Homo sapiens: one gene and its partner. The protein of the gene in region 1 interacts with the protein of each later gene in a biochemical or structural test. Each region holds a gene or a part of one and is shown on either strand. Other genes may lie near its edges.

What was found.
Region 2: the proteins of NEO1 (region 1) and HJV form a complex in vitro, tested with the Homo sapiens proteins (one study listed by IntAct).

Annotation. Positions count from the first base shown.
Region 1 is NC_000015.10:73,055,151-73,058,968, reverse strand, and holds part of NEO1 (neogenin isoform 1 precursor), read right to left. Parts: intron 1-3,818. UniProt on the Homo sapiens protein: Multi-functional cell surface receptor regulating cell adhesion in many diverse developmental processes, including neural tube and mammary gland formation, myogenesis and angiogenesis.
Region 2 is NC_000001.11:146,018,764-146,023,083, reverse strand, and holds the start of HJV (hemojuvelin isoform a precursor), read left to right. Parts: upstream 1-1,348; 5' UTR 1,349-1,497; intron 1,498-2,745; exon of another isoform or gene 2,746-2,763; 5' UTR 2,764-2,852; coding exon 2,853-2,949; intron 2,950-3,349; coding exon 3,350-3,909; intron 3,910-4,320. UniProt on the Homo sapiens protein: Acts as a bone morphogenetic protein (BMP) coreceptor. Through enhancement of BMP signaling regulates hepcidin (HAMP) expression and regulates iron homeostasis.

The DNA of each region.
Region 1 (3,818 bases):
AAAAAAAAGATATACAATAACCTGAGCTTTAGCGAATGAAAAAAAGGTGACTTTTGCATCTGAAAACCAGAAATGACCAGTGTTGGAACACAATAACTGAATAGAAGTTATTAAGCTGAAATAAACCCACTGTTCCATTTTATGGACTTCAGAGTAAGAGAAACCTGGAAGGCAGAAGGGACCTTTGAAATTACTTATTAATTAGCTTAACCTTTCAGTTAACAGATGAACTTGCATTTTAAAACATGGCCTTAAGTACCCAAAGTTCACAATTAAAAGTGGTAAAACCTTCAAAAAGTTATGAAAGTATTAGTCAATGGAATTATTCTTAATGACATCATTACTTTTCTGCAATAAATGGAACCCTGACCCCCACATACACACACAAGTTAACTTTTCACCAGCAATCCTATATGGGGGAATCCAAAATATAGAAAGAATATGTTCATCACAGCATTCTTTATCACAGCAAAACAGTAAAAACAACTTCCATATCCATAACAGGAGAATACACAATTAGCAGCAGAATGCAGAGGAATAAAGAACATAGGCTTTGAAGTTGCAAAAACCTGGATTCCAATGCCAACTCTTGCACATGAAAGGTTGTGAGACCTTCGGCAAGGCACTTAATATCTGAGACTCAGTTTCCTCATCTGTGGAATGTGAAGAAATTGTCATCTTCCTCACAGGACTGTATAAAAGATTAAATACATGTGAAAGAGCATGGCACAATGCCTGGAAGTCAGGGAGTGTTCTGTAACTACTACTTTAATTAGCCACTATTATTATATTTGCTCCCTGGAATATTACACACACATTTTAAATAATGGTTATAGGAAAATCTGTATGTACTGGCATGGAACGATCTCCAACATACTAAGTGAAAAAGCAAGTTGAAAAAACAATAGGTAGTATGATCCTGCTTATCTGTAAAAAAATAAAACCATACACACATATGCACATGCAAGGGAAGATATTAAAAGGGGTTACTTATGGGTTTCAAAAATGGAATTTGTGGGTAGAAGTGATAAAATCTTTTATTCTATGTATTTTTATATTGTTTGACTGCAAACAAACATATATTTATGTATTTTTAAATAAGTTTTTAAAATAAAATGATTTAAAGATAATGTGACAACAAAGAAAAATGGTATAATGTCAAAGGAAAACATTTCAAGTTATACATACACCATGATTACAATGTAAAAAGATAATGTGCCATATAGGCAGTAAGTAGAAAGAAATATACCAAAATCATACCAGTGGGTCTGAATGCCTTTTTTTGTCACTATTTACAAAATTTTTGAATCAAAAAAACTCTCTTCATTCTAAATGAATCCAAAATTTGAGCTCTATTTTAAAATCATCTTTCACTAGCTATGTCCATGACAAAGTTAATTTTTCAAAATCGTAAACACAAAACTTCTCCTCACTTCACTTAGCTCTCCGGTCAATATGATCTTACCTACAGTCATTTCCTCTGACTGTTCTCCAATTATTGATGCAATTTTACCCAGAAACCTAAACACTTACCAATGATATGGTAAATAGCTCCCAATCACATGGAAGTCACTAATAAAATAAAGTGTTTGGAAAAAAGACTATTAAATACAGCCTCCATATAATGAGATTTATTAAGGTTACCCCAATATTTTCATTGAGGTAGAGAAAAACTCATAAGGAAGAAACCAGCAATGATCAATTAAGCCAAAAGAAAAAAAAGTCTACACTTTCAAATAATTTAATATAGTATATTTTTAGAGTTCACAAAGAAACACTGAAGCCATTCTACATAGGTACAGTACTTTATAGTTTATGAACAATTTTACATTTTATTTTTCTGACAATCCAGTTAGGTAGGTAAGGTATTATTCTTGCCTGCCTATATCCCCCAACTTACAGATGTATGTGAAGTTGCAGAACCACAAGTCATACCCCATATCCTCTGCCTTCATGTATGTCTTTTCACTATCTCACATCATGTATTAATTTTCATACAGTTTATGAAAATCAGTCATATTTCTTATCTTCTTTGAGCATTCATCCCAGAATTCTATGATCTCTTTTGTGCCTCATTCTAACAGACAGGCAGAGCAACGCCATCAGTCTTTTCTTTTAGATGACTCAGTAAGATCAAAGATCTTTCCAAAGATGACAAAACTAAAAAAACGCTAAAACTACAGCATATCCAGGAGGATGACCAAGATCACAAAAGATCTGGAAACTAAGTAATGTGAAGAGTGGCTGAAGGAATTAAGGATGGTTAACTTAAAAAGGATAAGGTTTGAGGGGAAGGGCAGGGGGGGCCCACACACACATGCACACAGGAAATGTGATTAGACACATGAAGGGCCATCATATAAAGGAATCAGATTTGTGCTGTATGGCCCTACGGGTTAAAAACAAAGGCAATTCAACATTCAGTCAACAAACATTTACTGGTTATCTTCTCTATGCTACATGTTAGTGCTACACTAGGGAAACAAAGGTGAATAAGACAACCCGGCCAACCCCTTCAGAGGTTGAGACTAGCAGAAAAGACAAGAAAATAAGTAACAGAAGATGAAAAGTACTCAGGAAGCTATGGGAACACAGAATAGTGACCATAACTCTCTTTGGAAGAGAAAGCTGGTAGAGAAAAATTCATTGACTAGATAAGGAGTTTCAGAAGTGGACAAGGTGAGAAGTGACTTAACAGAAAGAACAGCATGTGCAAAGGCACGGAGATCTGAAGCTGTGTCGTTAATCTGGAGTGGTGGAATGCAAGGTGCATGTTAGGGGTGACAAGAGATGAGGCTTTATTGGGTTTGGGAGAACAGAGGTAAAGAATACAAAGGGCCTCACAATCTCCATGCCAAAGAGTTCTAACACCCAAGCTACAGAACACTAGTAACAGATTTTAAGTAGGAGAGTGGCATGCTCAGGAAAATATTTCAGGAAGCTCATTCTAGCAGGACAGACTTCTAGAGGGTAACAGTACAGACAAAGAGATTAATTATGGAGCCACTACTGTTAGTCCAGGTGGGGATGAAGATGAAAAGATACCGATTCAGAGTCAAGAAACAGCTGAGAGGTAAAAAGCAAAAAGAACTATCCGCTATGGCAATGGGAAGAGGAGGTCTTCTTGATCTCAGCTTGGGCAAGTGGATGAACAGTGATGACCAAGACAGGCAACACAAGAAGACAAATCCATGCAATCCTTCCAACAACATGAGACACAGGGGCCAGGAACTGGTTTGTTCATGTTTAGAGAATGGGGATGAAGGAAGCACGAGGGAAAATGACACAGAGTTTAACTTCGGACTTCAGTAACCTAAGATCCTATTTAGTGAAGGTACCGAGTGGCAAGTGAGAAAGTGTGGACTAAGAGAGTCCTTAGCTTACAGGTGGCAACTGAGGGCAAACAGAGTATGTATAATGAGATAAGCTTTAGATACTAATATTTAAGTGAGTGAGTTCAAGAAAAGCCAGAAAGACAAATGAAGAATTAATCAGAGAAGAGATTAACCTGAAGATAGAGTAATGCTGAAAAAGGTAAGCAAAGAGGAAAAAATGTAAGAAGGGTGGGGAGGGTGAAAACTACAGTGAAATGTACTGTACAAAGCAACATTTTCTAACAGAAGTTATTCAACACAGAAATGGACTACCCTGTAAGGCAATGAATCACATCATGAAATAAATGGTTCAGGCAGAAGCTACAGAGTCCTCGGTGAAGAATGTTCACTCTAAATAGAGAAGACATGCATTGCACAGGCTGCTGCCATGTCATCTTCCCCAAGGTCTCTACATATCTTTTCAGTAATCTGCCCTTTTTCAGA
Region 2 (4,320 bases), on another chromosome or scaffold:
TTCTGTTCCTCTAGAGAACCCTAATACAGTGACCGTATTTGGAATCGGTCCTTCTGTTAATTTCACTTGGCAAGTACTAAAAGATGATGATCTCAGATATACCTATGGCTGCAAAAACATGACATGGCTAAATCCCTTGGTTGCAGTATCTCTTTTCTTTTTTAAGGGGGGTGGGGGGGCGGGTCTCACTGTTGCCCAGGCTGGAGTGCAATGGCGTTATCATAGCTCACTGCAGCCTCAAACTCCTGCGCTCAAGTGACCCTCCTGCCTCAGCTCCCAAAGTGCTGAGATTTTGCAATATTTATGGTCACAAGATTATGTTATTCCATAAAAGTATCTTTCTGAGGCTAGGCATGTTGGTTCACACTTGTAATCCCAGCACTCTGAGAGGCTGAGATGGAAGGATTCATTGAGGCAAGGAGTTCAAGACCAGCCTGGTCAACATAGTGAGACCTCATCTCGGAAGGAAGGAAGGAAGGAGGGAGGGAGGGAGGGAGGGAGTGAAGGAAGGAAGGAAGGAAGGAAGGAAGGAAGGAAGGAAGGAAGGAAAAGTATATTTTTGAATCTTTTTCTATTTCTCCAACTCTTTCTTTAGAAGAATTCTATTTCCATTCTTTCTTCACCTCTTTGCCTTTGTTAGCCTTCTCTCCAAGCAAATCGGGAGCCTTTATTTTTTGTGTATTCATGAGGGAGAGGAAGATGAATTGCTGTACAAACTAAAGTAATGAAAATGGAGTAGGTAGGAGGATAGACAGCTGCAAGGATCTGAGCTGGATAGACTGAACAAACCCTCATCCTAAGCAACTCACAGCTCAGATTTCTTCTCTGGACAGCTGGCTTTTTTCGTCCTTCTGAAATACTCTGCAAAGATAGGAGAGGGGCTATGAACTACCTCTGCTATGGATCTTATTCAAAGTCAGCTACCTCCTAGATACTATCTGTAGAACCTAAATGTAATATTCAGCATAGCAGGGATGAACATGGTAAATGAAAGGTATCCAATTGCCCACTGTAATTTTTAAAGGCCAGGAGCTCAACATTATTGAAAATGCTGGAGGGCTGCCTGGAGTAGGCAGTGACCACAGAGTCACACAAGCTGGAATTGGATATCCAACTTGTCTGTCATATTTCTCTCCTCCCTCCCTGACTTGGCACTCAATACTCCATATTCTTTCTAATCCTCTAACCCTCCCCACTCCCCCAACTCCCACACCCTACCCCCACCAACGTTCCTGGAATTTTGGACTTAGCTATTTTTAAAACCGTCAACTCAGTAGCCACCTCCCTCCCTGCTCAGCTGTCCAGTACTCTGGCCAGCCATATACTCCCCCTTCCCCCCATACCAAACCTTCTCTGGTTCCCTGACCTCAGTGAGACAGCAGCCGGCCTGGGGACCTGGGGGAGACACGGAGGACCCCCTGGCTGGAGCTGACCCACAGAGTAGGGAATCATGGCTGGAGAATTGGATAGCAGAGTAATGTTTGACCTCTGGAAACAGTAAGTCAAAATGAAATTGCAATTCCTTTAATAAGCTTTTATATTGAAGTTAGACTTTTATAAAATTACAAACACCTACTTGGATGTCTCTCGTCCAAATGCTGGGATCTCTCCCTACCAAGGTGCCCCAATCTCCATTTCTCTTTCTGTCTTATTTCTTTCTGGCCTCTGGCCTCTAGCTTTTTGAAGTTTAATTCTCTGTCTCTCCTCTGGCAGTCTTAGCCCTCTCTTTACCTTATTACCTCAAGACTCCTGATGAAGTTTTAGAAGGAGTTCCCTACGTCCTCTATTCTGTAGTTTTCTTACCAAGGCCAAATATGACCTCAGATGATGAGTCACTGATACCCTTCTATCCTGCCCCCACTTAGCAATGCCCTTCACATTGAGATTCCAAGCATGGGGGCTGCTCCCTGTAAATGATTTCTCCCCACAACTCTAGTCCCTCCATTCTATTCTCCCTCTTGCAGGACTCTTCCCCCAATCATATCCTTACCCATAAGATAGGGGAGTTAGGCAGGAGGGATTTAGCCCCTCTCCAACTCCTGTCATCATAAAAGACTGAGAACTTCAGAATTTGAAAAGAAGAGATTAATGGAAGGAGTGATATTTGGGAAAATACAAGAACTGTTGACTTAGAAAAAACAAATATTGATTTGCATGTTTGGTTTGCATCCCATTATTCCATGAGAGAGGGAGATTAAAATTGCAGCTCTCTAGAGCTGATGAAAAGAGATTGGTTTCCTTTTCATTTGAATACTGATATTCTAGACGGGATGGGTATGCCACCCTTAATCCTTCTTGTGTTCTGACACAAAGGAGGAAAAGAAATGTATGACTCCTAGAGGGCATCTCCTCCTAATGGAGAGGGACAAATAAGAAGTATGTTTCTGAAATATTTTCAGGTCCTAATTTTACTAGGGTACCCACTAGGATTACTGGTATCTGATCTAGCCCCATGATTCCTCCATCTTTGACATACCTGCTGTTTGGTAGCTCAGAATGGAGCAATACAGTGGACTCTGCCCCCTTGAGTTCACTCAACCTTCCCTCCACCCCCACCTAGGGGTATTGCACAAGGGCCCTAAAAGTGGCCACAGGAACAGGGCAAAGAGGCTTAACTGCCACACTTATAGTTTGAGGAACTCCAATCTCCCCAAATTCCAGTCTGTTCATCCTTTTCTTGATCTCCCCAGATTCACTCCACATTATCCTTACCAATCTTCAATTCTTCTCTCTCTCCATGTCCAGCCAAATTTCTTTTTTCAGTCACTTACAGGGCTTCCGGTCAAAATTCACTAGGTAGGAGGGTCATCAGCTGGGAAGAACCGGCGCCTGGGAAACCTGGCTGGATAGGTATGGGGGAGCCAGGCCAGTCCCCTAGTCCCAGGTCCTCCCATGGCAGTCCCCCAACTCTAAGCACTCTCACTCTCCTGCTGCTCCTCTGTGGACATGGTAAGGAAGGGCCAGGGAAGGGTTTGGGGAAATCTAGAGGGTAGGCTGCTATGTAGGGGTGGGCATGTGAGCCTGAATGAGTGAGGAGAGATAGGCGCTGAGAGTCCCGATCACTCGCCCTGCTCTCAAATACTAATATTTTATTTCCCGTTCAGTCTGGGGAAGGCCACTGGGGAAGCCCTTGGTCGACAGGCAGAAGAGATGTGGCAGGCTTACACACTTTTAGTAAGACAGCCGAGAGAACTAGGGACTAGGGGGTTGGGGGCTGGGGAAGGCCCTTAGTTAGGTTTTAGGAAGGCTGGAAACCCCTGATGAGATTTGGAAGAGTTATGAGCAAACTACACTCCGATAGAGCAGAGGTCTGAGGACCGTCTCACAATCCTCTCCCTTCTGTCTTTAGCTCATTCTCAATGCAAGATCCTCCGCTGCAATGCTGAGTACGTATCGTCCACTCTGAGCCTTAGAGGTGGGGGTTCATCAGGAGCACTTCGAGGAGGAGGAGGAGGAGGCCGGGGTGGAGGGGTGGGCTCTGGCGGCCTCTGTCGAGCCCTCCGCTCCTATGCGCTCTGCACTCGGCGCACCGCCCGCACCTGCCGCGGGGACCTCGCCTTCCATTCGGCGGTACATGGCATCGAAGACCTGATGATCCAGCACAACTGCTCCCGCCAGGGCCCTACAGCCCCTCCCCCGCCCCGGGGCCCCGCCCTTCCAGGCGCGGGCTCCGGCCTCCCTGCCCCGGACCCTTGTGACTATGAAGGCCGGTTTTCCCGGCTGCATGGTCGTCCCCCGGGGTTCTTGCATTGCGCTTCCTTCGGGGACCCCCATGTGCGCAGCTTCCACCATCACTTTCACACATGCCGTGTCCAAGGAGCTTGGCCTCTACTGGATAATGACTTCCTCTTTGTCCAAGCCACCAGCTCCCCCATGGCGTTGGGGGCCAACGCTACCGCCACCCGGAAGGTCAGGCACTCAATCTTCCTTCCGATCCACCTCATGAGATTCTTCCACGGGCACCATTCCTCCCCATCCCCACTATTCAACAGCAATGCTCCCTAATTCCCTTTTCTTCCTCAACCTCTCCCCCATCTCGAATCACTCCCTTCTACCAAACACCTGGAGCTGTAAATCACTTCCCCTTGATGGGAATTTGACTCAAATGCAGAAAACCTTGAAGAGACAGTCGGAGAGGGCGGACCTGAGGAGTTTCAGAAGGGAAACTTTTCCCTCTCCTAGGAAGTTGCCACGATTAAGTAGAGAGGGGGTTAAGTAGGGATGAGGTAATACTGGAACATAAATAGGAGAAGGGATCAAGGATTGAGGGCCATAGTAGTCCTGCATCTCTACTTGGATCAGATCTCTAACTATGTATGA